7 linked regions of the Homo sapiens genome follow. The protein of the gene in region 7 purifies or fractionates together with the protein of the main gene of each other region. This does not show direct contact. Each region holds a gene or a part of one and is shown on either strand. Other genes may lie near its edges. The genes, in order: LSM12, SKIC3, GTPBP10, NUDT19, GATD3, CUX1 and IRF2.

Region 1 (3,952 bases), on a different chromosome or scaffold from region 7:
TCTCTACTAAAAAACTACAAAAAAATTAGCTGGGCGTGGTGGCAGGCGCCTGTAGTCCCAGCTACTCGGGAGGCTGAGGCAGGAGAATGACGTGAACCTGGGAGGTGGAGCTTGCAGTGAGCAGAGCTTGCGCCACTGCACTCCAGCCTGGGCGACAGAGCGAGACTCCGTCTCAAAAAAAAAAAAAAAATTAGCTGGGGGTGGTGGCGGGCACCTGTAATCCCAGCTACTCTGGAGGCTGAGACAGGAGAATCGCTTGAACCCAGGAGGCGGAGGTTGCAGTGAGCTGAGATCGTGCCATTGTACTCCAGCCTGGGCAACAAGAGTGAAACTCAATCCCAAGAAAAAAAGCTATGCTTAGTTTATGGTTTGATGGATCACTGTAAAAGCAGAATATAAATGTTTGAAGATTCCAAGCATTAAGGTACTTTTGGAATATGCTGTAGGTATGGCTCCCCCATTTTTTTTTTGAGACGGAGTCTTGCTCTGTCGCCCAGGCTGGAGTGTAGTGGTACAATCTCGGCTCACTGCAGTCTCTGCCTCCCGTGTTCAAGCGATTCTCCTGTCTCAGCCTCCTGAGTAGGCGGGATTACAGGTGCACACCACCACACCCATCTAATTTTTGTATTTTTAGTAGAGACGGGGTTTCACCATGTTGGCCAGGTTGGTCTCAAACTCCTGACCTCAGGTGATCCGCCTGCCTCGGCCTCACAAAGTACTGGGATTATAGGCGTGAGCCACTGGGCCCAGCCAGTGCCTCTTTTTATTTAAGGAACTGATGTTTGGGGACAAATTGTGTGTTCTCGCGCGTGTTTGCACATGTGCTGCAGCATTGTTAGACTCAGCTGTTCATGTTCATGGGTCTGAAGAGTCTCCAGATTATTTGTTGGACTTTTAAGATGCATTGTTTGCCTTTAATTTGTTTTAACTACCTTGTCTAGCACATTTGTTTTGTCTTACACTCAAACAAATTTGTACCTCTGGAATCTCTAGCAACCAGTAGTGTGGGGTAGGGATCAGAAATGTGCTGGAGAGGTGATAGGGATTGACAGGGTAGAAGTTACGAGATTGTAGTAGACTACCAGATTTTACTAGATTTTCTTTTGATCAGTTTGTGGATGGTTCCACCAGAGGGCAGTGAAGGAACAGACATGACGTAGAATTCAGACTCTTCGTTTTTCTCAAAAGCAGGACAGGGTTGCCTTTAGCTAAAGTTAAAGGTGGACAGCGTTTATGGTTAGATTTACTTGAGTCCTGGCTCCCTATGTGAGCACAGATAATGTTCTGTAAGAGTTTTTAGAGTCTCAGATTGTGGTCTGTGAAGGTGTGGTATGTATTAATTTTTAAACTGGAGGCTCTAGCACAACAGCTGATAAATCTTAATTTTCGCCTTGAATGGAAATTCTGTGTGTGTGTGTGTGTTTGTGTGTGTGTGTGTGTGTGTGTGTGTGTGTGTGTGTGTGTGTTTGTTTTTTTTTTTTTTAAAGAGACAGAGTCTCACTTCTTTGCCCAGGCTGGAGTACAGTAGCATGATCTCGGCACACTGCAACATCTGCCTGCTGTGTTCAAGTGATTCTGCTGCCTCAGCCTTCTGAGTAGCTGGGATTACAGGCACGCACCACCATGCCCGGCTAATTTTTGTAATTTTAGTAGAGACGGGGTTTCACCATGTTGGCCAGGCTGGTCTCGAACTCCCTACCTCAGTGATGCACCCAGTTAGAAGTGTGTGTGTGTGTATGTGTATGTATTTTTTTTTGTTTGGTTTTGTTTTGTTTTGAGACGGAGTCTTGCTCTGTCACCCAGGCTAGAGTGCAGTGGCGCGATCTCAGCTCCCTGCAGCCTTCTCCTGGGTTCAAGCAATTCTCTGCCTCAGCCTCCCAAGTAGCTGGGATTACAGGAGCCCGCCACCACGCCTGGCTAATTTTTTTTTTTTTTTTGTATTTTTAGTAGAAACAGGGTTTTAACCATCTTGGCCAGGCTGGTCTTGACCTCCTGACCTCGTGATCCACCTGCCTCGGCCTCCCAAAGTGCTGGGATTACAGGCATGAGCCACCTCCCCTGGCCGGAAATGTATATATTTTTAAATCTCTGACCATCATTTGCCATCACATAGTCCCCCAGCCACACTCTATAATGTTAAAAGTGCTTTATTTTCTTCCTAGTGCTTATCACTGTCTGAAATCACCTTGATTTCAGTTACTTGTTTATAGTCTGTCTCCCCCACCCACTTCAGGCTATATTTAGCCTAGCATAGTGAATGTCTGGCACATGGTAGGTATGCAGTAAGTATTAGAAGGAAGGAAGGAACGTTTTCTTGGAATACCAGTAACTGTTCAGGTATGTCGTGGATTTTTAAAATTTGTTTCACTTTTCATTTCTGAGAAAACAGAATCTGTCCAAACAAGTCTTTCCTGGCCTCCTTTCTTCAGCTTAGGTCCTGACTGTTGGCAAGAATGAAGATGAATCCTATTCTGAGTCTCTTTCCTCTCTTCCACCCTAGCTTGCCAGCAAAGCACGGACAGAGAAGGAGGAGAAGCTGAGCCAGGCCTATGCAATCAGTGCTGGTGTCTCTCTAGAGGGCCAGCAGCTCTTCCAGACCATTCACAAGACGTGAGTTGGGATCGGAGAGGTCCTTTGTCCTGGGGTAATGCTACCTGGTTGTGCTGTCTGGTGGCAGGCTTTTGGGTGGTTGTCTTCCTAAAAGTCTACTGGGGAAGCTGGGTAGGGTATTGGCAATATGCCAGCATCCAGAGGTGCAGGTGCTGTAGCCCCCTTTCCACACAGAAGAATAGTGTAATCACGGACAAGTTGTCTTCTCTGGTCTTTAGTTGCTTGTCTGTAAAACTTAGTTTTGGATTAGATTATCCCTAAGGATCCCTTCTAGACCTAGTAGTCCATAACTTAGAACTAGTGATTTCTTCTCTTTGATTTTGTTGTTTTGTGCCTTTCTTTAAAAGCTGATGCAGTTTTTATTAAGGGAAAGTTATATCTATATCACTTTTCCCATTGTAGATTGGGATGAACACAGGGAGTTAGAGCAGGCCACCTTCTTACCACCTCTTAAAAGACATTTTGGGGCCGGGCGCGGTGGCTCACGCCTGTAATCCCAGCACTTTGGGAGGCCGAGGCAGGTGGATCATGAGGTCAGGAGATCGAGACCATCCTGGCTAACAAGGTGAAACCCCGTCTCTACTAAAAATACAAAAAATTAGCCGGGCGCGGTGGCGGGCGCCTGTAGTCCCAGCTACTCGGGAGGCTGAGGCAGGAGAATGGCGTGAACCCGGGAGGCGGAGCTTGCAGTGAGCCGAGATTGCGCCACTGCAGTCCGCAGTCCGGCCTGGGCGACAGAGCGAGACTCCGTCTCAAAAAAAAAAAAAAAAAAAAAAAAAAAGACATTTTGTTGGTCGGGCACGGTGGCTCACGCCTGTAATCCCAGCACTTTGGGAGGCCGAGGTGGGCGGTTCACCTGAGGTCGGGAGTTCCAGACCAGCCTGACCAACATGTTGAAACCCCCATCTCTACTAAAAATACAAAATTAGCCAGGCGTGGTGGTGCATACCTGTAATCCCAGCCACTTAGGAGGCTGAGGCAGGAGATTCGCTTGAACCCTGGAGGTGGAGGTTGTGGTGAGCCAAGATTGTGCATTGCATTCCAGCCTGGGCAACAAGAGCAAAACTCCGTCTCAAAAAAAAACATTTTGTCACAGCAGAAGTCATTTGACTCTCCACTAGCTTCCCTAGCTGCTGAAAAACTGGAACATTTGACACCCCTCTCCACCCCGCCTCCCCCCACCCCACACTGCCATCTGTTACTCTGTTTAACCACCCTGGATCTGGTGCACAGATGGCAGCTGGCATCAGAGCTGTTTGAGGCTGTGGTGTGAGTATCTGAACATTTACAGGTATGTGAAGGAACTCCCAGTCGCATCAGCTGCCCTGGGGCTTCCCAAGTG
Region 2 (3,952 bases), on a different chromosome or scaffold from region 7:
AGTTAAATTAGATTAATTTTTATTTCTTGGAATAGCAGCATGTATATCAAGATATATGTGGTTTTATGTGAAAACACTATTTACTTCATCCAAAACAACTTCGAGAAAAGCATTATGTTTTTGAAAAGGTTTATAAAAAATTTATTTATACCATACATGTAAAGATTTCTCCAGCAACTCCTTAAGATCATTCATGTTGCTGCCTGTTTCTGCTAGATGTTGTGCTTGGCGATAATAATTAATTCCAAGGTCACACCATGTATTAGATGTAGACATCAGTTTTAATGCACGACCATAACACCTACGGGAATATAAAAGTGAATGTTTTTTGTTACAATGCCTTAATTCAATTCAAATGTTATTAACTGGCAATCTTTGCAAATTACCTTCCTCCAAGGTGGAGGAGCTCATTTTTCTTTAATACTTGTTTTCCTTCTTTCTGACCTAGAAGGACTCCTAAAACATGAACATTCACTTTAGATGGTGCGACAGCATACAGACAGGTACAAGCATCCCCAGCTAGCTTCCAGAGGCAGGACACATCAGCTCGATGCTGTAGAGCACTAAAAAAAGAAACATTGTGATTCTTACAAATTATTTATAAAAAGCATGAAGTTTATCTCCCTGATTATTACTTAAAACAGAAAAACTGTACATTAAGTACTTTACTAGTCTCCTCCTAACTGAATCATATCATATCACCTCCCTAATAGGAAGGGAAGAAGAAAAGGAGAAAGGGAAGGAGGAAGGGATTACTTTAAGTGCCAGAAATTTTGTGGACACTTTTTTTTGTTACTCTTCACCATTTTTATTAGAAGTAGCAGCAATCACGCAAATAAATAAATAAGTTTTCCAGGACCAATTTCCTTTTAATATTAAAATGTTAAAACTATGCTTTTTGTGTTTAAGCAATGACCAAGGCAGTAAAGTTTGTAACTCTCTTACAACTGACAGTTGTAAACTCAGGTTTTTGCTTTTAGATCTTCTCTCATGCTGTGTAGTTTTGACTACATCCCCACAAAGCTCATGAGTTGGGAACTCAATCTCCAGGACAACAATGTTGAGAAGTAGGACCTTTAAGAGGTGATGATGTCATGAGGGCTCTGCCTCCCTAAATGGATTAATACTGTTATTGTAGGAATGGGTTAGTTGTCACAGGAGTCAGCTCCTGATAAAAGGGTAGGTTCAGTCCCATTTTTTTTCTCTTGCATTCTGCCCTTCTGCCATAGGATGACCCTCACCAAGATGCCAGCACCATGCTCCTGGACTTATCAGCCTCCAGAACCAAGTCAAATAAACTTCTGTTCTTTGTAAATTAACCAGTCCATGGTATTCTGTTATGGCAGCAAAAAATTGATGAAGACACCTCAAATAAAATATACCAAATATATTTGGTAAGATCTGAAAGATTTTTGTAAATTTTATTTTTTAATTGGCATAACTATATATATTGATGAGGTACAGAGATGTTTTGATACATATAATGTATTGTGATCAGATCAGGGTAATTAGCATATTAATCATCTCAAACATTTATAATTTCTTTGTGTTAGGAATGTTCACTATCCTCCTTCTAGCTATTTGAAACTATATATTATTGTTAACTACAGTCATCCTACAATGCTACAGAACACTAGAACTTATTCCTCCTATCTAGCGTAATTTTGTGTCCTTTAACAAGTATTACCCATATATCCTTTCCCCCTACCCTTCCCAGCTTCTAGTATCCTCTGTTCTACTTTTTACTTCTATGAGATCAATTTTTTTTTTAGCTTCCACATATGAGTAAGCACATATGGTGGTTAACTTTCTGTTCCTGGCTTATTTCACTTAACATAATGTCCTCCAGTTCTATCCAAATTGCCTTAAATGATAGCATTTCATTCTTTTTTATGGCTGAATAGTATTCCATTGCATATAAATACCACATTTTCTTTATCCATTCATCTGTTGTTGAATATCTAGGTTGATTCCATATCTCGACTATTGTGAATAGTGCTGCAATAAACATGAGGGTACAGATGTCTCTTTGATATAATGATTTTCTTTCCTTTGGATAAGTTCCCAGTGGTGGGGTTGCTGGATCATACGGTAGTTCTATTTGCAGTTTTTTGAGAAAACTCCATACTGTTCTCCACAGTGGCTACACTAGTTTGCATTCCCATAAACCATATAAGAGTTCTCTCTTCTCCACATCCTTGCCAGCCTTTATTTTTTGTCTTTTGAATAACAGACATCCTAACTGGGGTGACATGATACCTTACTGTGGTTTTGATTTGCATTTTCCTGATGATTGGTGATGTTGAACATTAATACCCTGAGACCAAAAAAAAAAAACAAAAATCTAAACATAAAAATCTGAAGAACTACATTTACCGAAACAAGAGCAGACTGAATGAACAAGCTCAAAAAGCAAAGAGAAATATTAATTATGGTGACAGAGGGCAATTCCTTTTAGAATGAGAAAAACTTCAGCTATACATTTTTCTTCATTTTTCTCTTCTCGAGATCTTATAAATAACACATGGCAATTTCATTTAAGCCAAGTCTCAATAATCAGCTATCACAAGCTGCTATGTTACTGGCAGATGGAAAAGCAGATGGAACATTTTTCATAGCCTTTTCTACTCATGGAGTCCAGCCAAAAATAATTTTCCAATGTCTTCCTAAGAAATAATATTAATTATTGTGGTCATAACTAAAAGCCCACTGAGAATCTGAAAGAAGGGCAATATGATTTGGAGTTCCTTTGCCTAAATATCTTAGCAAAATTTCTAAAATTGACAGCAAAAAATGAGAAGAGAGGAAAAAAGTGAAACAGGCGATTTTAAGAGCCTAAATTCTTATTTTGAGTTCAATAAAAATAAAATATCTATAAATTGAAGTAACTTATATCACCCTTACACAATAATTGTGATAGTATTAACGCCTTGTAAGTCTGGAAGTAAATATACATTTGGAGATTATAATTGTTTTATATGCCACCTTCTAATGGGTTATGTTACATGTTATCCAGAATAACATTTCCTAGGCTCAGAGAGGCAGTATTTATAGCTAAGGTACTGTCACCCAAAGGTTCACATTTACTCTTAAATAGCAGTTCAAATAAAGCATGCCCTTTACACAGTAACTTTCCCTTTAGAAAGAACTACATTATGTGAGACTTGAAAAGTAGCAATAAAATTCAGTGAGATAAAAAAGGGTTAGGTTTTCATTTCATATTTGGTTCATATGAAAAGCAATTCTGGAACAACCAATAAATACAAAACAGAGGAGAAACCAAGCAGGAAAAGAGGGGAAGTAGAAGAAAGATGTTTAAGAGTTACAAAAAATTCAAATGTACATCTAACTTGTGGACTTTTGGAAGTCTTCTACCACAGATAACACTTTTTCTGACCTAACCAATGAATTCACAGTTCTATAAAATGCCAAATCTACTCAAAATTTTCTGATTCCTTTCTTGTTATTAGACACATCACTTTTTTCCTTCACAGTTTCTCCTCAGGAGCAATCAGATTGTCATTTCCCCTTACCTTCAAGACCTACTAATAATCCTACAATTGGCTCTTACCACTGAATGTACAGCATATTGAGCACCTGAAGCCCTATTTCCCAATCGGTTCCAATTAAAGATACTCATTTCCAGGCCTACTGAAAGAGAACACTAACACATGGTGTCAGAGCTGCTGTTCCACTAGCAGACTGCTCCTTCCTTCCTATTCTTTCCTATGCATCTAGGATGCCAGCCACTACTAAGAGCAGAAGAAATTATATCTGTTTCCCCAAGTGCAAAATTAATACAACATGTATGTTATAGAATTGGCTTGTCTGTTATTCTTTATGTTTGACATTCTGAGCAATTGCTATATCTAGCAGAATACATAAAATGATCTTCTAAATTTGGCTTCATTTTAATATTACAAAAATAAACAATAAATAATAAGAATAATAC
Region 3 (3,952 bases), on a different chromosome or scaffold from region 7:
AGTAAATTATTTCCTGTATTTATAACCAAGCAAAAGCCTAAAATGTCTCAACTCATAAAAGACTGATACTAAAGAATATTTCAGAGTTTTAAAACTTTCTGTCCGTTTCTTTTCCCAATGTCTATCTGTATTCTTTTTGCACTTCCCCTGTAGAAACCGATAATTATCTGAATTCCCACTGTTTTCTTCTAAAATTATCTTTGACAACCTTTTAGAAAACTTTCAGTCTTAACCATGCTACTCTACCCCACCACCATTAGAAGGCAAGATAACCACTATTAACCTTTTCTTGACTTTTCTAAGACTTTTCTGTGTGTTTACACAAATGCAATTATGTGCCTAAAAGTTTAGAATACAAAAATGAGAGTACAGTATTTTACAATCTGCTATTTTTACTTTTTTTCACATGTCAAAATTATTCAGAATACCTGCATAATAAATAACTATTTTGTCATTTGTCTATTTAGGTTATTGTTGATTTTTTTTTCCGATTATAACCACAGTGCAGCATTCTGTGTAGATACTATTTTACATGTTTGTTCAATTATTATTTTGATAAATTCCCAGAAGTAGAATTACTAAAACATTTGTACTAATTTTTTCTTTTATGAGCAGTTTAAGAGTAGCCAGATTTGCCTTCTATAATGTAAGTACTCTCATTTGAGGTTAGTTTTTTAAAAGCTTTGCTATTTGGTGGATTTTCTTTTTTTTTTTATAGATTCATTTTTTCTTTTTTTTTTGAGACAGAGTCTCATTCTGTTGCCTAGGTTGAGTGTAGTGGGCACTATCATAGCTCACTGCAGCCTCTACCTTTCAGGCTGAAGTGATCCTCCCACCTCTGCCTCCCAAGTAGCTGAGACTACGGGTATGTGCCACCATGCCCAGCTAATTTTTAAATTTTTCTTTTTTTGTAGAAATGGGGTCGTGCTATGGTGTTCAGGCTTGTCTTGAACTCCTGGACTCAAGAGATCCTCCTGCCTCCGCCTCCCAAAGTGCTGAGATTACAGGCGTGAGCCACCACGCCTGGCTTTTTCTACCCTATTTGTATTGTAGCAATAATCTCTTCATTTCATGGTTGCAATATTTTAGTTTCGGGTTAAAATGACCTTTGGTGGTTAGCTTAGTAACTTAAATCATTACTTAATGCCATTTTAGTGGGATATAATAGTCTAAAATGCAAAGAAATAATTAGGGATAATTTTAGTTTTTTTAAACCCCGTGTTTGACCATTTAACATCTGCGTTAACCAGAGAATTGATTGCTACTCTTCTTTGTAAACCATTTTGTGTGTATGTGTGTGTGTGTATATATACACACACACATACATACATATATATACTTTTTTTTTGGTAGAATTAGTGCACTGAAAGGCTCCAAAGGAAAAGACTGTGAAATCCCTGTGCCTGTGGGTATTTCAGTAACTGATGAAAATGGTAAAATTATAGGTGAGTGTACTATAACTCCAAAAGTTGTAAAAATGTGCACGTTTTCTAAAATGAAACAATGGAATAGCTTCTCTTGAGTTTCAGAAGATTTTTTAACTAACAATTTTAGCTACTATTCTATAAGAGAGCATTTTTAAAACTTATAAAAGTTAAATTGACTGCTAGATTTAAGATTGTTTTAAAGATGTTACAGTTCTTACTTGGTCTTAAAATATATAACTAGGCTCTTTTCAATTGTTTACTGAAGTGTTTTTCTGGGGTCAAACTTTTAATAGATTTGTAAATTGGAATTTCCTGGACTGTTTTTCTGAAAGAACAATATTACATTAATGATTCTACTTATTAATTATAGATTTGTAATTGAGAATTTCCTGGCATGTATTTTTGAAAGTAAAATATTACATTAATGATTTCACTTACTAATCTATAGATTTGTAATTTTGCATTTCTTTGCCTGTATTTCTGAAAGAAATATATTGCATTAGTGATTTCACTTATTAATCTTTGCTGTAAGTATTTCTCTCCCTCTTTTTAAGGAGAACTCAATAAAGAAAATGACAGAATTTTGGTAGCTCAAGGAGGTCTTGGTGGTAAATTACTTACAAATTTCTTACCATTGAAAGGCCAGAAACGAATAATTCACCTTGATCTAAAACTTATAGCTGATGTAGGCCTAGTAGGGTAAGTATCGTTCATATTTTTATTATTATACTTTCAGAGAGAGAGTTCTTGAATAGAAAATAAATGTAAATGGTAATTTGGGGCCATAATTATTTCTAATTTATGGAATTTGTGTGTTGTGTATGTACTTGGAAAATATGCTGCTAAATATTATTTTCAAATTGCCAACACAGAGTTTCATAGTTATTGCTTATTTATAAAATTAAGACCAGAGCAATTGAATAGATCAGTGGGAATGTTAGAGAATGCATAAAGAAAGAAAAATCAATCAAATGCAATATTACAAGATGGTTAAATAATGTTACCAGATATTAATAATAAATCCAAACAAACCGTATTATTATTAAAAATATATAGAAGGAAATAAACAGGGAAAAATGGTTGACATAACTCTTTTGGGTCTTAATAGAGACATTAAAGTATCGTTAATCAAATGGCTAAAGACCAGTACAGACAATCTCAATCCTCAGACTTACGCACTGTTGCCGCCAAATTGAATCCTGCTATGACTGTATATCCTTCTTGCCTCTGCTTAGGATCTATCTAGTCTCAGCAATGTAGGCCTCACAAGAGTGTCCTCTTCCACCAGCCTCCATTCTTTCATTAAATAATGCTGTTTAGCTGTGGGGTTTGCAGTGCAGCTGCCCACTGGAAGGGGATAGATAGTAAGATACAGAATACATAAAGGAAGAGAAAACTTCAATTTGCATTTGCTCTCTCTCCCCCATCCCCCCTCCCTCCTATCCTCTCCCTCTGGCCCTATCACAGTATTACACAGTTATTCAGATGGAAAGCTTAAGGACAAGATAAGGAAAACTGCCTTATTACTGTCCTACTCCAAATTCCTAGTTCTATTTTTTGCTTCCCCATAGCTTCTTTCTAAGTTCTTTTCATGTTCCTCTTCAGTCATCTCACTGCTTCTTTACCAGACTCTTAAGTCTGTATCCCTCGTCTTTTGCCCTGCCTGACCAGCCACTAGAGCTTACCACCATTGGTTTAGGGTTCACAGAGGCCCCATTCCTGCTAAAATTATAACAAGGAAAGATGTGATCCTGGCTTGCCATTTACATTTATTTTTTTCAATAAAGCACAGTTACAAGAGTTATTAGATGTAAGTTCTATAATCCTCTATATTTTTAGGAACATTATGGGCTTAATAGGGTCTTATGGACAAGACTGGCAGTCCAGCCAATCACAGTTGCATTTTGCATAAACATGTGTTTCAAGTTCTGAAGAGACAACTTTACAGTCTAAGAGGAGCCTAGCACGGCTTAGTCATAAAAGTGGAGTGGCATGGAGGACTCAGGTTAGACTATTTAGGTTAGGATCTCAAATCCTCTGGAGGCTGGCCAGCTGGTCTTGGGTAAATTACACAGCCTCTCTAAGCCTTTGTTTTCTCTTCTTTTTTTCTTTTCTTTTCTCTCATTCTTCCTTCACTATAGTTTTTTGCTTTTCACCACGTCATTTGTTTTCTCATCTTTAATAGTGTATGGAGATAAGTCTTTCCTTAAAATGTTGGTGGGTAAGATAATGCATTTACAGCAGAATACATGCTTTGCATTTTTGTACGTTCAATGAATTGTAGCTGCTATCTTCATCATCATTATATTGCCAACTTACTGGAAAACTGCATATAATGAAATACTAGGCTTTTCAGAAGTAGGTTTGAAATTTGTCTGTAATTAAAGCATCAAGATTCTTAAGCATATCAAACAAGAATGGGGGAAAAAGATTTTTAAGTGGAATGTTTAACATATTTTCTAGTGTTTTTAAATTAGGCAACTATTCTTGAAGAGTTACTACTATGAATACTAGCATAAGTAGAT
Region 4 (4,679 bases), on a different chromosome or scaffold from region 7:
AACCTTGTCTCTGCTAAAAATACAAAAATTAGTCAGGCGTAGTAGCATGCGCCTGCAATCCCAGCTACTCCAGAGGCTGAGGCAGGAGAATTGCTTGAACCCGAGAGGCAGATATTGCAGTAAGCCGAGATCGCACCACTGCACTCCAGCCTGGTGAGAGCGCCAGACTCCCTCTCAAAAAAAAAAAAGGTTCAGTTTCTGTTGTTTTGCTATGCACCCAGGACCAGGACTTGGTCATCTCACTCATGAGTAACCAGCTTCTGTGAAAACCAGCTGATGTTGAAACACACACATTCACCTACAAAACCACGGTGTTATTTTACAGCAAAGGGAGTAGTATGTTCTTAAGACCCTTAATCCCTCCATAAATGGTTAGTCATCTGTAAAATAGTGGTAACTGTTTCCACTTCATGGGGTTTTGTAAGAATTACACAACTAATACTAATAAAGTTCCTAGTGCCTCACACACTGTACCCAGTAACTACTAATATTATTATCCCCTAGGATTATTATTACTCCTAGTATTGAAGACATGTTACTTTAATCACCTGAGTGCCTTTCTCTCCATTGCTCTGTATTTTTATTTTATTTATTTATTTATTTTTTTGAGACAGAGTCTCGCTCTGTCACCCATGCCGGAATGCAGTGGCAGGATCTTGGCTCACAGCAACCTCCACCCAGATTCAAGTGATTCTCCTGCCTCAGCCTCCTGAGTAGCTGCAACTATAGGCGCGGGCCGCCACACCCAGCTAATTTTTGTATTTTTAGTAGAGGCGGGGTTTTGCCATGTTGGCCATGCTGGTCTTGAAGTCCTGGCCTCAGGTGATCCGACCACCTCGGCCTCCCAAAGTGCTGGGATTACAGGTGTAAGCCACAGCGCCTGGCCAGAGACCAGGTCTCTTCAAACAAAAAAACAAACAAAACCCCTAAATATTGACAATGTCATCTGTGGATTCTACCCAGGAAATAACCCACATTAAAATGATGGTTTGTGAGGGTCGGCAGGGGTATAGTGTATTTCATCCAAAAACATAACAAATGTGTGATCCAATTATAATAGCAATTATGGGAAAAGCTGTCGGTGACTGATAAGGAGTTATAAAAGAAAAGACTCAAATTTACACAGGCTTTTCAAAAGATCATAATCCTGCTATTGGAGGTGGAAGTCTTCTAGACACTAACAAGGTGGAGAGAAATCTCCATGTGGAGGCCCAGATTAAACATCTCCCATCAAAGTGGAACTCGTCAAATGTCCTAAGACACCTAAGGCCGTCCCCAGGCGCCCTGACAATAAAAGGTAACCAGAACACGAGAGAAATTACTCTGGGAGTACCTTTCACATTCAAGGTGTGCAGTAGGAAATTTATAAATTGGCATCTGGCTCGTCCATTCATTTCTCATTGGTGTGGTTCACGTGTGCTTGCAAAGGTCAGACTTCTGCCCTTCGAATGTCCTCTCTCCCTCTCCCACAGAAAACACCCACATGTGGGTCCTTGTTTAAAGCAGAAAGTCCTAGTCCTTAGCTTTTAGTGAGGTGGATGTCATCAGGCCTGGGTTGGCATCCTGTTTTTTACCATGGCAAGTCATATGCGCCCTTAAGCATTCCTGCTTTTGGTCCAAGCTTCCTGCGTGGGAATACTGCGGTCCTCCTTTCAGGCAGCTGTGAATGACAAACGGTCGCTGGCTGCCGTGACACCCATTGTCCCGCGAGAGTGCCCTAGCTGGGCCCCAGTGCACTCGAGGCGGTCCCTGCTCGGGTGCCCCTCCCACAGGCAGGCGCCGTTGCCGACCAAACGCCCAGGTTCACCCAACGCCAGAGGCTCGTCCTCAATTCCCGCGAGGCCCCCGGAGGTGCTGGGGTCCCTGCAGGGCCGGGCCACCTGCCGTGGAGCTCAGGCCGCGCCAGAATCGGATCCGGGAAGCTGCGCGCCATGAGCAGCTCCCTGCGGCCGGGCCCCAGCCGCTGGCGGCGGGCGGCCAGCATCGTCCTGGCGGCTGGCTGGTCGCGCCCGGAGACCGCCACCCCGCCGTCGCGCCCGCCGCCGGCCGAGGGCTTCCGGCTGCTGCTGCTGCAGCGCTCCCCGCACCAAGGCTTCATGCCGGGCGCGCACGTCTTCTCCGGCGGAGTGCTGGATGCGGCCGACCGCTCGGCGGACTGGCTGGGCCTCTTCGCGCCGCACCACGGGCCGCCGCGCTTCGGCCTGGGCCCGGCGCCATTCAGCCGCACCGCTTTCCCGTCGCTGCCCGACACCGATGACCACAAGACCGACAACACTGGGACGCTGCCTGAGGACGTAGCCTTCCGCATCTGCGCCGTGCGGGAGGCCTTTGAGGAGGCGGGCGTGCTGCTGCTGCGGCCCAGGACTTCCCCACCAGGCCCAGCACCCGGGCCTGGCCTCGCCCTGGAGCCACCGCCGGGCCTGGCCTCCTGGCGCGACCGCGTGCGCCAGGACCCGCGCCACTTCCTGCGGCTGTGCGCCCACCTCGACTGCACACCCGACATCTGGGCGCTGCACAACTGGAGCGCCTGGCTCACCCCTTTCTTGCGGGGCACCACTCGCCGCTTTGACACGGCCTTCTTCCTGTGCTGCCTGCGCGAGCCGCCGCCCGTCTACCCCGACTTGGCGGAGGTGGTGGGCTACCAGGTAAGGCCTGCTCAGGGCCTTGCTGCGGACCGCCAGGACGTGAGAGGGAGGACCCCTCCCAGCGGCCCAGGCCCCCAAGGGACCCCCGCATAGGCCAAGCCCAGAGAGATTAAGCAGCAAGGAACGCTTAGACGGGCTGGAAACTCTCACCCCTGTAGACCAAAGCCATGCTCTTGGTGAAGTGCTCTCTGCTTTCCTAGGCTTTGGGGTCTCAAGGCCTGGAGCCTGTCTCTCCACGTGGTTCCTCCAGCGTGGCCACTGTGTAAGCACTTGTACATGTGTAGACATAGTACATCTCCACAGCCGTTTAATTTGGTTTTCTTGGAGAACAGACTTAATATGATCCAGTCTTCCTATTTTTATTTATTTTTGGTACAGATGGGGGTCTTGTCTCTCTGTGTTGCACACCCAGGCTCGTCTCCAGCTCCTGGTGTGTCCAGAATTGGTTCCTTCCAGTGGGTTCTTGGTCTCGCTGACTTTAAGAATAAAGCCGCGGACCCTCGAAGTGAGTGTTACAGTTCTTAAAGATGGTGTGTCCAGTTTCTTCCTTCAGATGTTCAGATGTGTCTGGAGTTTCTTCCTTCTGGTAGGTTCGTGGTCTCGCTGACTTCAGGATTGAAGCCGCAGACCTTCGCAGTGAGTGTTACAGCTCTTAAAGGTGGTGCGTCAGGAGTTGTTTGTTCCTCTTGGTGGGTTTGTGGTCTCGCTGGCTTCAGGAGCGAAGCTGCAGACATTTGTGGTCAGTGTTACAGCTTATAAAGGTAGTGCGGACCCAAGGAGTGAGCAGCAGCAAGATTTATTGCAAAGAGCAAAAGAACAAACCTCCCACAGCGGAAGGGGATCAGAGCAGGTTGGGTGCTGGTGGCTGGGTGGCCAGCTTTTATTCCCTTATTTGGCCCTGCCCATGTCCTGCTGATTGGTCCATTTTGCAGAGTGCTGATTGGTCCATTTTTACAGAGTGCGGATTGGTGCGTTTACAAATCTTTAGCTAGACAGAGCACTGATTGGTGCGTTTTTACATAGTACTGATTGGTGCATTTACAAACCTTTAGCTAGACACAGAGCACTGATTGGTGCGTTTTTACAGAGTGCTGATTGGTGCATTTACAAATCTTTAGCTAGACAGAAAAGTTCTCCAAGTCCCCACTGGACCCAGGAAGTCCAGGGGCTTCACCTCTCAATCCCGCCTCTAAACAGGGCACCCCATCTGCTGTTGGGAATTGGGCAATGACTGCTCTAGCTACTTCCTGCTGGACAGGGGCAAAGAAGGGGCCCTGCAGTTGTAGTGTCCTCCAGAGGGGAACTCTCTAGGCCAGTGAAAGGGCCAGTGGGTCGGTCCAGGGGTCCTCGGTAGAAGTTGTTAGTTGAGCTCATTTGGGTTTCCGTTTGTAAGACCATCTGTAGTTTGATGGCCTTGATTCTAGAGGAAACAAATTTGACAAGGAGGTTAAAAATACAGGGCCCGAAGGCGAGTAATAGTAAAACGGCTGTCACAGGATGTAGAAAGGGGAGAAGCCATGTTGCCCAACTCCAGAGGTTGGTATAAGAGTTTGAAAGGCGTTGTCTGATTTCAGAAACCTTTTCCTGTAAATGCCGGGCGGCATCTTGCACTATCCCTGACTTGTTAGTGTAAAAACAACACTCTTCCCCTAAGGTGCAAAGTCCTCCTTTCTCAGCAGTGAGGAGGTCTAGGCCTCGGGGGTTTTGGAGAGTCACTGCTGCCAGAGTCTATTTGGGATTGTAGTTACTATCCTTACTGAATAGATTTTGTTATTTCTTGCAAACTGTCTGAGAAATACTTTGAGAGTGTGTGGTAGTAAGATAATGAAGTAGATAAACTGGCTATTCCGGTTCCTGTAGCAGTGGCCATTTCTAGCCCTATAAGTAGGGGTATCAGTTGTATGGCCCTGTGCTGATGGACTTGAGCTTTGAGGGGCACTGATAGGGTCTGATGTCCATAAGATTAGAAGTTAGGATAATATGTGTTACACTGTTAACTTTTAGCAAACTTTACTTTTGTTGAAAACCTTAAGT
Region 5 (3,952 bases), on a different chromosome or scaffold from region 7:
GAGATTCGAGGAAGAAGCCATAGCTGCCTCCTGGGGCTGTGCTTCTCACCAGTGGGGACCCCTGTGATTTCTTTTCCTGCCTGGGACCCTGGCTTCTGCACCTGGACTTGCACCTTCGGCCCCCACACCTGGGGGCTAGCAGCTTCCTGCGGTGGCTGGCCTTCGGGTTGCTTCACTGGTCCTGAGTCCTGGCTTCTTACCTTCCCCTCTGAGTCCCACCGTCCTGATGAGTGCACAGAATTCTGTCTGCTTTAGACACTCGGAGAGACTTCCATTTCCCATGGGCCTTGACTGCAGAAGATTCAGAGTGATTTGGCGCAGGTTCTGAAGTGCTGATCGGAAGAGCCCAGCATAGATTTAGCGTTGCTAGAACCATGTTGTCTTTCCAGGTAGTGACCAAACATGCTGACCTGGAAGTAAGTCCCCGTGTGGCTGAGAGCCACGTGTGTGGAGCGTGTTGCCTGTGGGCTGTGCCCCTGCCGCGCTCCACAGTCCTTCACCTGCATGCTGAGGCTTTTTGCCCTGTGCTCTTTCCCAGGAATGTTTTGACCGAGTCTGCGAGGATCGCCCGTGGCAAAATCACAGACCTGGCCAACCTCAGTGCAGCCAACCATGATGCTGCCATCTTTCCAGGAGGCTTTGGAGCGGCTAAAAACCTGTGCGTATTTGAGCTCCAAGGTCTTCCGCTTTCCATGTGGAGCAGATGGGAAGGGGGTGCACCTGTCTGCTGTCCAATGTGGTCAGTGGAGCGGCGATGGGAGGGGGTGGTGATAGGAGCAGTCTCTGGGTTTAGGGTCTGGGCAGGGCACGTGCCTGCCCTCTGACTTGGGAGCTGTTCTTAGGGTTGGGTCTTAGGTAGCGTTGTAGCGAGCCATGCTTTTGTTTCTGCTTCTCTGCTGCCTCTTCTCTCAGCATTCCTGGTACCCAGCAGCTTGTCAGAGTGGGTTTGGGGCTCCCTCTTATCTCATCACTGTGCTGTAGGTCTCGTCACGTTGAAATCAGTCTCTGAGTATTTACTCCTTGCAAGTGCCAGTTTTTTTTCTCTCTCTCTCTCTTTTTTTTTTTTTTTTTCTGTAGAGATGAGGTCTTGGTCTGTTGCCCAGGCAGGGATGCAGTGGCACGATCCTAGTTCACTGCAGCCATGATCTCCTGGGCTCAAGCCATCCTCCAGCCTCATCCTCCTGAGTAGCCGAGACTATAGGCGCATGTCACCATGCCCATGGTTTTGTTTTTTTTTTTTTTTGGCCATGTATGTAGCCCAAATTGGTCTGGAACTTCTGGGCTCGAGTAACCCTCCTGCCTCCCAAAGTGCTGGGATTCCAGGCCTGAGCCACCGCGCCTGGCCCCAATTCTCTTATGGAACCTTGCAGGATCAGAAATGGGTTTCCTTCTTGGTAGTTTGGGCGGCGGTCCTGACAGGAAGAAGGGAGGCCGCCTTGGCGTGGCTGTTTTGGTAGCTGGACCGTGAATCATGGAGGCCTGGCTGGCTCCCACACGGTGGCGTCCTTGAGTTCCAGATCCTCTTTCTGTTCTCTGTGTCTCCTCTCTCTCTTTGCACATTCATGGAGGTTCTCTGGGCACCGCCCCCATGGCCCTGCCTGAGAGGTGGAGGTGGTGCCAGGCTGACCCTCCAGGGACAGCTCTGCCACCTGCAGGAGCACTGGCCACAGTGCATCGGAGCGTGCAGGTGGCTTCTGTGCCATGGTGTGGGTGGCAGCCCCAGCACGGCCGGCCCCGGTCGGCAGCTCCTGTTTCAAGGGCAGGTTGGAGGCTGGCTGGCCGCTTGCCCCACCCTGGGCAGCCTGCACCCAGAGTCGAGGGGTAGGCAGTCTCCATCCGAAGAATGCGCCCCTCCTTATCCCGAAACCTCAGAGGCCTCCTTCCTCAGATGCCAGCTGTTTTCTCAGTGCCCTTGGCCGTGCCCTCACCCCTCTCTCACCGGAAGCCCCACCCCAGCCTGTCGTCCCCGGTCTCCTGAAAGCCAGCAAGCCTCGTCGGTGCCGCCCACACCCCTGACCTCACGCAGCCCCACGTCAGGCTCGATCTTTTGTCCAGTTGTCCCTGCGTCGCTGCCGTCTCCACGAGGCTCTGACCACTGACACCGTGTGTGGCGGGGCGCAGGGGCAGCTGGAGGGTGTGCTGGGGGCTCCGTGCCCTGGCATGGCTCCTCCACATTTTGCCAACCCAGAGGCACAGGCGTGAGGTGTGTGGTGGTTCTCAGGGTCAGTGGGTCTTGGCCTTGGCTTTCAAGGTGTTGATGGGCCCTGGGACTGATGTGCCCGTGTGTCTGAGCCCACGTCCCCTGGGCGAAGCTCCCATTTTCACTGACCTGTCCAGAGCGTTCTGGGTGAGCCTGCCCTGCGTGTCCATGGTGCGGCGCGCTCTAATGAGCTGCAGCCGTGGCCACTCTGCACCCTCTGAGACAGTCACCCATGGGGACGGCGAACACCCACTGCCTCCAGAAGATTCCCAGCACTCTGCCAGCAAAGCCATGTGGAAAATGCTGGGGCAGAGGACTGGGGTGCGTGAGGGTGGCGTAGAGCCCAGGGGTGGGTTCGTGGGAAGGTGTGTCCACTTGTAGATTTGGTGGCATTGCCAGATCACACGCCCCATGGGCAGTGTGGAGAGACCTCCCCTGCCCCGCGTGCCCTCCACAGCTCCTGCTCCTCGGCCTGAGGTGTGGATGCTGGTGTCGCAGGTAAACTGGCGTTTCTTTCACGGTCATCGAAGCAAGAGTGCTTGGTATGCCTGGAGGCCGACTGCGTTTCTTTTTTTGGGAACTCCTGGAGTTTCCTGCTGCCCCTTTGTTTTAAGGAAAAACTCTCACACCGTGTTTCTCCTCCTCCCACCACAACAGTTGTCCACACAGAAGGTGGGTGTGAAGGGTCTTCCCCATGCACCACGCAGGGGTCGCTGCTGCCTTCTAATTCAGTTCCAACAGTATGGACCCGGGGTAGCGTCCGATCGCACGGGTTGAGGGCTCCGTCCCCAAAACTGCCCTCTGACACATACCGGTAAACTGTCTGAGCCTCTGGAACTGACCAATTGGCTTCAAGTTGGGGTTCCCACAACCCCGTTTGCTGGCGTGGCTCACAGTGCTCAGGGAAACATGACGTCAGCATTCTCCCCCGGGGAGTGGGGGACCCTCTCAGGAGAGGGTCCTGAGACCCACAGTCAGAAAGGCGGGGAACATTAGAGTCCTGCTTTGGGGCAGGTAAAGGGCAGGCGGGAAGGTCAGAGGCTGCCCGAGGCCCGACACAGCCAACGTCGTAACAGAAAGCTAACAAGCAGCACGGGAGTTAGGAGCCGGAAACCAGCGTCTGAGTCTCAGCACCGCAGCCCGGGTTCTGCCAGCTGCTCCGGAAGGTTCCAGGGCGTGGGCCCTCTCGCCCTGGTGGCCTCCTGCTGCACCACTTCCTGATCCTCCTGCTTCCTATGCTTATTTCTGTTTAAAAAACAGGAAAATATGTTCACATCAAACGCGCATATGTGCAGCCATGCCCATGTCCCTTGCTGCAGCTGACTGAGGGTCTGGAGCTGTGCCTAGGAAGCCCCCCAGGAATAGACCCTGGTTGTGAGGCTGTCTGAGGAGGCCTTTTGTCTCCCGGTAGGAGCACGTTTGCCGTGGACGGGAAAGATTGCAAGGTGAATAAAGAAGTGGAGCGTGTCCTGAAGGAGTTCCACCAGGCCGGGAAGCCCATCGGGTGTGTACAGCCGTGCAGGCCTCGGGGAGGGAGGGAGGAGGGTGCGTGGGCCCGCGGCCTCTGTTCTCAGCCAGGAGCTGCCGCTGATCCTGAAAACTCACAGCTGCTTTTCTTGTTTTAACTGAGGGGATTTCACACGATGTCACTGGTGACTTAACAGGAAGGAGAGGCACAGTGCACTTCCCTAGAGGAGGCCTGGAATTCTCTTGGCTCCCAGAGGTGTCCCTAGGCAGTCCCTCAGGACCCCT
Region 6 (3,952 bases), on a different chromosome or scaffold from region 7:
TCTGTAATGCCCCAGGAACGTCTGTTTTTAGTGAAATGAAGGAAGGACACGTTTGTTAGGGGAAAACTCATACATTTCGTAAGCAGAGAAATTCATCATATGAAGAATCCTACAGAGGTAGGTTAAATTCCTACCCGTGCTTCCATTTCAAATAGTTTACACATTTGTCACATGTAAATTTCACAGACAGGTATATCTGACGAATTGTAACACAAATGGTATGTAAAAGGCAACTCTAACCATTATTCAAATATACAGGATCCAGGATCGTGAGTTATTGTAGAAATTACTTAAGACCTATTTAAAATTATTGAATACATAACTTTAAAAAATGTAATTGCTCTATGAAAAGTGACTTTTATTATAATTGTCAAAGACAGAAATTTGTCTGTCTTGTCCTTTTGTTTTGTCTGAAGCCCCGCGTTATCGCTGCAGAGAGAGAGTTTTGGTTTCCACCGAAATTTCCCTGCCTCCGATTGTTTAAACCAGACCCTTAATCTTATTTTAACATATTTAAAATGTTCACAAAACCCGGAAGAATTGTTTTGTGTAAGTAGCAAGCGAGTGTAGCTTAAACACTCAAGCAATTCTGGTATCTAATTGGAAACAGGTGGAATTCTTGGAATCCCATGTTTGAGTCTTTTTATAGCAAAGCCCAGGGACACTTTTCACTTATAGCCATTCGTTTTGTCGAAGCTATTTGAAGAGGGGCCCCACAGCCTCTCCTTATGTCCCACTGTTGCTTACCTGGACAAAGCAGTCGTGCTGGGCGCTTTAGGAACTGGATACCTGTGAATGCCTGGATGCCGAGAGAAGTGTGTGTGTGTGCCGATAATGGAGTGAAAAAGGAATCTAATGGTATAGTTAGACAAGCAATTTAATATCTGCATTGTTATATGACTTTAGAGCAAAGAATTTGTGAATTCATTTGTGATTTCTGACTTGATGAACCTTGACTGACCAGAGCATGTAGGTACATTTTATTATACCCCAATAATGATATAGAATTCAGAGAGAAGATACTCCCCCCCGCCCCCAAAAAAATTCTACATTTAGAGAATATAAGCTCCACCAGCAACCATAAAAGTATTAACTTGGTGAGGGGGATATTTTCTTTCTTTTTTTTTTTTTTTGAGACAGAGTCTCGCTCTTTCGCCCAGGCCGGAGTGCAGAGGCACTATCTCAGCTCACTGCAAACTCCGCCTCCCGGGTTCACACCATTCTCCTGCCTCAGCCTCCCGAGTAGCTGGGACTACAGGCGCTGGCCACCAGGCCTGGCTAATTTTTTGTATTTTTAGTAGAGACGGGGTTTCACCGTGTTAGCCCGGATGGTCTCGATCTCCTCACTTAGTGATCCGCCCGCCTTGGCCTCCCGAAGTGCTGGGATTACAGGCGTGAGCCACCGTGCCCGGCCCCTATTTTCTTTTCTTTTCTTTTTTTCTTTTTTCTTTTTTTTTTTTTTTTTTTTTTTTTTGAGACGTGGTTCTGTCGCCCAGGCTGGAGTGCAGTGGTGCGATCTCGGCTCACTGCAAGCTCCGCCTCCAGGGTTCAGGCCATTCTCCTTCCTTAGTCTCCCGAGTAGCTGGGACGATAGGCGCCCGCCACCATGCCTGGCTAGTTTTTTTGTTTTTTTGTTTTTTTTTTTTTTTGAGATGTAGTCTGGTTCTGTGGCCCAGGCTGGAGTGCAGTGGCGCGATCTCGGCTCACTGCAAGCTGAGCCTCCCGGGTTCACGCCATTCTCCTGCCTCAGCCTCCGGAGTAGCTGGGACTACAGGCGCCCGCCACCACGCCCGGCTAATTTTTTCTATTTTTAGTTGAGACGAGGTTTCACTGTGTTAGCCAGGATGGTCTCGATCTCCTGACCTCGTGATCTGCCCGCCTCGGCCTCCCAAAGTGCTGGGATTACAGGCGTGAGCCACCGTGCCCGGCCGATGTTTTCTTAAATATTAATGGCAGGGCCCTCTGGATTGACTGTGTTATTTGACCCATTCCAGTTTTCAAGGCGTGGTCTTGAAAAGCTGTCGATCACCCTGGTTTTGGGATGTGTTTCAGAACCAAGTTTCGATGGTGTGTCAGTGTTGGATTTTCCTGCTGAGGACAGCTAAGGTTTGGTATGGAGCAGTTTTGGATTTGCTGAGCTGTAATCAGTCCAGCTTCTCTGCTGTCTTCTGAGAAGGTTGATGGAGGAGAGTGGTCTTTGGCGGGGATGGAGGTTTCCCTGCAGGAAATGAACCAGGACTGAGGGGAACCTGTGCCGTTCCCCTCATTTGTCCTGCGCCTGAAACAGCTTTGAAGCACCTGGCTTGTGACTTAAAAGATTTTTAAAAAGCATTTGTGCTGCCCTATTCGGGTATTACACAGTGAGGGTGAACCATTCTTTTCGAAAGACGTCTAAGGCCGGGCACGGTGGCTCATGCCTGTAATCCCAGCACTTTGGGAGGCCAAGGCAGGCAGATCACTTGAGGTCAGAAGTTCGAGACCAGCCTGGCCAACATGGCAAAACCTCATCTCTACTAAAAATACAAAAATTAGCCTGGCGTGGTGGCGCATATCCATAATCCCAGATACTCGGCAGGCTGAGGCATGAGAATTGCTTGAGCCCAGGAGGTGGAGGTTGCAGTGAGCTGAGATCGTGTGACTGCTCTGCATGCAGCCTGGGTGACAGAGCGAGACTCTGTCTCAGAAAAAAAAAAAAAAAAGACATCTAATTTGTTGTAAAACCTGTCAAGAACCTTCCCTTTAAAAAGCTAATGCCTCTCTAATAAAAATAATTTTAATTTTGTTGTAATTAAATTCAGAGAGGATGATGTTAGTGCACAAAATAAAGATTGTCAATTTCTTTATTTTAATCCAACGGCATTTCCTAACTGCAGGAGGCCCAGGACCGTTGGCAGAAATTTTGTGTTGATTAGAGCCTCGGGCCATGGGAAGTGCAGGTACTGTGGCCACAAAGTTCGTCGCCCAATCCCTGGCTGACCCCACAAGCAGGACTGGTACAGATCCCACCCTCAGGGGTCTTCCTACACAGAGAAACATAATCACACAGGTGACTGGAACGGAGCCAAGGATGGTGGTGTTCCTCCTAGGGATTTACTAACACTGCCAGCAACTCAAGAACTAGCCAGCCGGGAGTTTCCTAGTAAGTGAAACTGACTTGGTTCTGCTTCCTTTCATGAAAACCTTTGTGAAAATGAGCCCAATAAGGGGTCCGAACCTTTATAAAGCACACGACCCCCCAGAGTGGACCGGGCCCTGGCCGACTCCATCAGCCGAAGCTTGAGATCTTGGATGGTCTGGATGGTCTTGACCGTGTGTGATTGATGCAGTTAACAAAGCAGGAAATTAACAGAGCTTACTCTGAGACACCAGGGAAGTGGCTTGTTCTTTCTTGGGGTTACTTTGAGTGGATGCTGGCACACTGCTTGTTTTCTTATAGATACCTTTCTATTGGGCTGTGTTTATTCAATAAGGAAATGCAGTTAACATTTTTTTAACAAGTAAACCATGGGTTATGAGGTGTTCCGAGTTTGGTTAAGGGAAAAACAAATTGACAAATTAGCTCTTTCTTAAGTGAGTATTGCGAAACAGTGAGAAATAGAATGCCTGTCGTACCGTCATTAAAAATTTATCTGGGTGTTGACAGCTTTTTGTTAAATGTAAGACATTCAGATCCTGTCCACCCAGCATATGAAAAAACCAAACCAAACCAAACCGAAAAACAAAATGCAACACAAAAGCTTCTTTCCATTTCCCCCCAAAAGCAAGACAATTTTTCTTAAACTGGGGCTTTCTCCCTAATGAATTGCCATGATTTTGTTTTCTCTAACATAGTTTAATATCTTTAAGACAGAACGAATATCAACTCTTTTTATTTTATTTTTTGAGACGGAGTCTCACTCTGTCGCCCAGCCTGGAGTGCAGTGGCACAAACTCCGCTCACCGCAACCTCCAC
Region 7 (3,952 bases):
AAGTGACCCCTTGCCTGATCTGTGGCATCAGAATTTTATTAGGTGGTTGATGGTTTAGTAGAAGAAAACCACAGTAGAATAATGGGGTGGGGGAGGATGGGTAAGAGGGGCTGGAGAGTAGACTCGAGAAGAAAACATCATCTGAAGGACTCACTGGCTATAATGAGAGAGTGGAGATCGCCTGCTGACCAGCAGCCATCAGTAAAGGCTTTGAATCCTTCGGGAAACCACACCAGGCTTGCATTTTGTTGGGCAGAGCAAAGACACAATCGCTTTGAGATTAAGAGGATTCCGATTTGAAAATAATTTACTCCTGGTGAAAGTAATTGAGAATATGATCAATAGAAAGAAATTCAAATCAAACTTGCTGAACAAGAGCCTTCCAGAAAGTGTAGCAGAATGTCAGAGTGCAAAAAGCCTTTCAGGTGAAAATGCATCCTCTCCCTTCCCGCAGTGTTCCTGCTTAGACAATATGTATATCCTCAGCGAGGCGTTAAAAACTGGACTGGATAGAGAGTGAACCTACAACCAGTGTCACCCTAGAACTGGAAGAGCTTTTGAGATCATCTAATCCAAATCCTCCCCTTCCCTCCCACCCTAGATGCTTTCAGGAAAACTGAGACCAGAAAGGTTAAGTGAATTACTCATGTGCCTGTTGGTACTGTACGAACACCTTCAGCTTCTTCATTTGTTTGGAGTTGCTGGAGAAGCAACTCCAGACTTCTTTATTCCATTGTATTCGAAGTAAGTAATAAACAAAAAGCAAAAACAAATTCAAACTAATCAAAAGGGAAAATGAAATGACAACGTATGTTGATAGTTCGATAGTAACACTGATCTGGAGGCCCAGCTGCAGTCAGCTCCCTTGTGTAAGAAGTCAGCGTGGAAGTGGCAATGGTGGTCAAACCAAGGAAACAGAGGACACGGGGCGCAGTGCATCCAACAAAGCACTTGGAGCCACCGATTCTGGGGTCACAGAGAGAACTGCTCCCCTCAGGGGGAGGTTCAGGGTTCTCTGCTCCTAAGCTAAGGTACTGAAGGCCCCTTTTTGAAACTGTCAGTGTCCTAATAGGGCGCATCTTCCTGACGACTTCAGATGCTGTGGAACTTAATCTAGACACGACGCTCTTTAACTCGCATTTGTGTCAGCTGAAAACATAAGTTCGGAGCATGTGTATCTTTTCTTATCTGCAGCTATTTCCCCGAAGCTGAAAACTGGGTACTTAAAGGAAGTTAGCATCCCGGTCACATTCATGGGCGGTGCAAGGTCTTACCCGGGAGCCTTACCCCAGGATCTGACTTCCAGCCCCTCCTGCACCTGCGACTGGGGCTGTGCTGGAATCCCAGCCCCCAAAGCATGCTTGGTTGCGTATCTTTGTTTGTATTTGGAGGGGAAAGGAAAAGAAGACAGTGATATTTATGGAGAGTCATTAGGAGTGAAGAGCATCTGAACCCGTATGAAAGGAAGAGAAAGCTTGGCTTTGGAGCACAAAGAAAGCTAAGCATAAAATGGAAAGCGGATCTTGAAATGTTGTCAGAGACCAGAACACCAGGGAAGCAGGGCTGCTGTGTGCAGTGCACAGGCCCTGGAATCAGAAGTACAGTTTTGTTTTCTCTCCTCTGTGCTGTCTCAGTTGGCAACTTTGGCAAGTTTCTCAACATCTCTGTTCCTCATTTTTCTTCTTGGGAGTGGCTGTTCCGATTCCTGCCTCCTCAGGATACTGAGCCAGCACGAGGGTTCTCTGAGGAGGGGAATTTTCTTTTTCTGTTGGTTTTCATGTGTTTCTGCGTGGAAACAATTCTTGTGCTCGGCAACGTCAGCTCATCTTCATAGCTGGGATCGTCGTCAGCTGAGGCTGAGGGCTTCTCTGGGTCTCTGTGGCTCCCAGCACGGGGTGTTTTGGGGAAACATGCCCAGTCCGAGGAGTGGAGAGATCTGTCTTCTGCATGCTCATGGCCAGCCCACCGCGATCACTCAGGTTTGTGTGAAGTTACTGGAGAACAGTGGCTGAGAAACAGGCCCAGAGACTCCAGGCTGGGACCAGTGGAGTCCACATTCTTACTTTCCTTGTTTAAGGAATGCACCTGTGGCACAGTTTGTCCATTTGTTCTTTTGCCTTTAATTGATAGAGAGCCTGGTCTGGGGCTAATGCTCTCAGTGGAAGAAAGGGCTCTGTCTGGGCTGGAGCCATCTCATCCCAGCTCTGCCACCAGGAAGATGTGAGACAGAGGCCAGCCCCTCAGCAGGGACCGGGTGGAAAGCTGGAAGGCACTGGAGCATAAGAGCTCTTCTGCGTAACGGGGGATGAGAGCAGCTGCTTGCTGACGTGGGACCCCTGTGAGACCTGCATGCAAAGCCTCTGACATGGCACTGACCCATAGGGCTCCCTAAATGTTTGCTTCTTTTAGAACACGAGCTTCACTTTTGGATTTTCTTGTGTTGTGAAATATACGTCACCTAAAATTTACCATACTTTTGGGTATGGGGTTATTAAATTCAGCATTGGAACTAAATAGGAGGAAAGGCAGTTAAAGGTTGCCATCAGGAAGAGAAGCTATTGCAGTTACTCTTTAGGCCTTGTCTGTAAAACGAATGGCTCAGGCTAAGTGATCTCTAAATGCCTAAATATTGCACAGGCTCTGCCCTCTGTGATTGCATTTCTCAATGGTTATGGACACTGGAATAATCGCACACCATTGATATTTTATTTTACAAAATCAAAATGTTTTTACGTTTAAAAAGCTTTTTATAAGCATAGGTCATGTGTAATCACTAGACTTCGATTCCATTAATCCAGCCTGTTGTGCAAACCCAGTGTTAAGCAGTGCTGATGTATGGAGTGTGTGCTGTGTGCCAGGCCCTTGCTAGGCCTTTCCCATGTACCCTCTCACTCACTCTCCATGTAATCCTCTTAGATGGTGGCAGTGCCCTCATTTTACAGAGGAGAAAACTGCAGCTCAGTAAAGGTGAGAAACTTGCCCAGTGTCTCACAGCTGGCAGGCCAAATGGGGATGGCAACTGATTGGCTGCCATAGCCATGCAGCCACAAACTTAGTGGCTTGAAGCGACACACATTTGGATCTTACAGTTTCTTTGAGTCACGAATCCAGGCGTGGCTTAGCTGGGTCCTCTGCTGCAGAGTCTTGCAAACCTGCCATGGAGGTGTTGGCTACAGCTGCTGTCTCATCTGAGGCTCAACTGGGGAAGGGTCCATTTCCAAGCTCATGTGGTTTTGGCAAAATTAAGTTTCTTGCAGGTTGTTGGACTAAGGGCCTCAGTCTCTTGCTGGCTGTTGGCTGGAAGCAGTCCTTAGTTCTTTGCCATAGGAGCCTTCCCAACATGGTTGCTTGCTTTATCAAGGCCAGCAAGGCAGAGTGTTTCCTCTCCCAGCAGGTTTCTGAGTTATGTAACATGATCATGGACACAGGATCACATCCATTTCATCCCCTTTGCTGTATCTTATTTGTTAGAAGCAGACACATTCCATCCACACTCAAGGGAGGCAATCCCAAAGAAAGTGAATCCAAGGAGGTGAGGATCATGGGGAGCACCCCAGATCTGTCCACCTACAGTAACCCACATGGCAGATGCAACTCTAGAAATCCAGGATCTAAGTCCTAAAGGGGTGAGAGGTAAAGGAAGGATCTGAGTGGGATGGGGATAATGTAGGAAGACCTTTTGGAAACGGTCAACTCTGCACTGGGAATTAAATGAATTGGTTGGCATGGATTGAAAGACAGGACCCATGTGGGCATTGTGGACAGAGCTGCAGTGAGGAGGGCCCCAGGGACCAGCGCCCCTTCCTGGGAGGTAGTGCCCAGTGTATACACAGCCCGGCCCTGGCCAAGGGAGCCTCCTCACAGCTCTCAAGCCTGGTTTCTCCGAAGATTACAGAGTTGAAATTCACTCTAGCTTCTCCCATGTAGAATGTTTCGCTTTACAAAGGGAGGG

The links.
Region 1: the proteins of IRF2 (region 7) and LSM12 purify together in Homo sapiens (affinity purification with mass spectrometry; one large-scale study listed by BioGRID and IntAct). This does not show direct contact.
Region 2: the proteins of IRF2 (region 7) and SKIC3 purify together in Homo sapiens (affinity purification with mass spectrometry; one large-scale study listed by BioGRID and IntAct). This does not show direct contact.
Region 3: the proteins of IRF2 (region 7) and GTPBP10 purify together in Homo sapiens (affinity purification with mass spectrometry; one large-scale study listed by BioGRID and IntAct). This does not show direct contact.
Region 4: the proteins of IRF2 (region 7) and NUDT19 purify together in Homo sapiens (affinity purification with mass spectrometry; one large-scale study listed by BioGRID and IntAct). This does not show direct contact.
Region 5: the proteins of IRF2 (region 7) and GATD3 purify together in Homo sapiens (affinity purification with mass spectrometry; one large-scale study listed by BioGRID and IntAct). This does not show direct contact.
Region 6: the proteins of IRF2 (region 7) and CUX1 purify together in Homo sapiens (affinity purification with mass spectrometry, with the first as the bait; one large-scale study listed by BioGRID). This does not show direct contact.

What each region holds. Positions count from the first base shown.
Region 1 is NC_000017.11:44,038,805-44,042,756, reverse strand, and holds part of LSM12 (protein LSM12), read left to right. Parts: intron 1-2,500; coding exon 2,501-2,610; intron 2,611-3,952. UniProt on the Homo sapiens protein: Nicotinic acid adenine dinucleotide phosphate (NAADP) binding protein. Confers NAADP sensitivity to the two pore channel complex (TPCs) by acting as TPC accessory protein necessary for NAADP-evoked Ca(2+) release.
Region 2 is NC_000005.10:95,516,760-95,520,711, forward strand, and holds part of SKIC3 (superkiller complex protein 3), read right to left. Parts: intron 564-3,952; coding exon 387-563; intron 302-386; coding exon 157-301; intron 1-156. UniProt on the Homo sapiens protein: Component of the SKI complex, a multiprotein complex that assists the RNA-degrading exosome during the mRNA decay and quality-control pathways.
Region 3 is NC_000007.14:90,353,105-90,357,056, forward strand, and holds part of GTPBP10 (GTP-binding protein 10), read left to right. Parts: intron 1-1,353; coding exon 1,354-1,445; intron 1,446-1,981; coding exon 1,982-2,126; intron 2,127-2,602; exon of another isoform or gene 2,603-3,952. UniProt on the Homo sapiens protein: May be involved in the ribosome maturation process. Complements an ObgE(CgtA) function in E.coli ribosome maturation. Plays a role of GTPase in vitro. When missing, disorganization of the nucleolar architecture is observed.
Region 4 is NC_000019.10:32,690,030-32,694,708, forward strand, and holds the start of NUDT19 (acyl-coenzyme A diphosphatase NUDT19 precursor), read left to right. Parts: upstream 1-1,791; 5' UTR 1,792-1,931; coding exon 1,932-2,645; intron 2,646-2,935; exon of another isoform or gene 2,936-4,065; intron 4,066-4,679. UniProt on the Homo sapiens protein: Fatty acyl-coenzyme A (CoA) diphosphatase that hydrolyzes fatty acyl-CoA to yield acyl-4'-phosphopantetheine and adenosine 3',5'-bisphosphate.
Region 5 is NC_000021.9:44,136,639-44,140,590, forward strand, and holds part of GATD3 (glutamine amidotransferase-like class 1 domain-containing protein 3, mitochondrial isoform 1 precursor), read left to right. Parts: intron 1-538; coding exon 539-658; intron 659-3,611; coding exon 3,612-3,704; intron 3,705-3,952.
Region 6 is NC_000007.14:101,820,224-101,824,175, forward strand, and holds part of CUX1 (Homeobox protein cut-like 1), read left to right. Parts: intron 1-3,952. UniProt on the Homo sapiens protein: May be involved in intra-Golgi retrograde transport.
Region 7 is NC_000004.12:184,390,857-184,394,808, reverse strand, and holds part of IRF2 (interferon regulatory factor 2), read left to right. Parts: intron 1-3,952. UniProt on the Homo sapiens protein: Specifically binds to the upstream regulatory region of type I IFN and IFN-inducible MHC class I genes (the interferon consensus sequence (ICS)) and represses those genes. Also acts as an activator for several genes including H4 and IL7.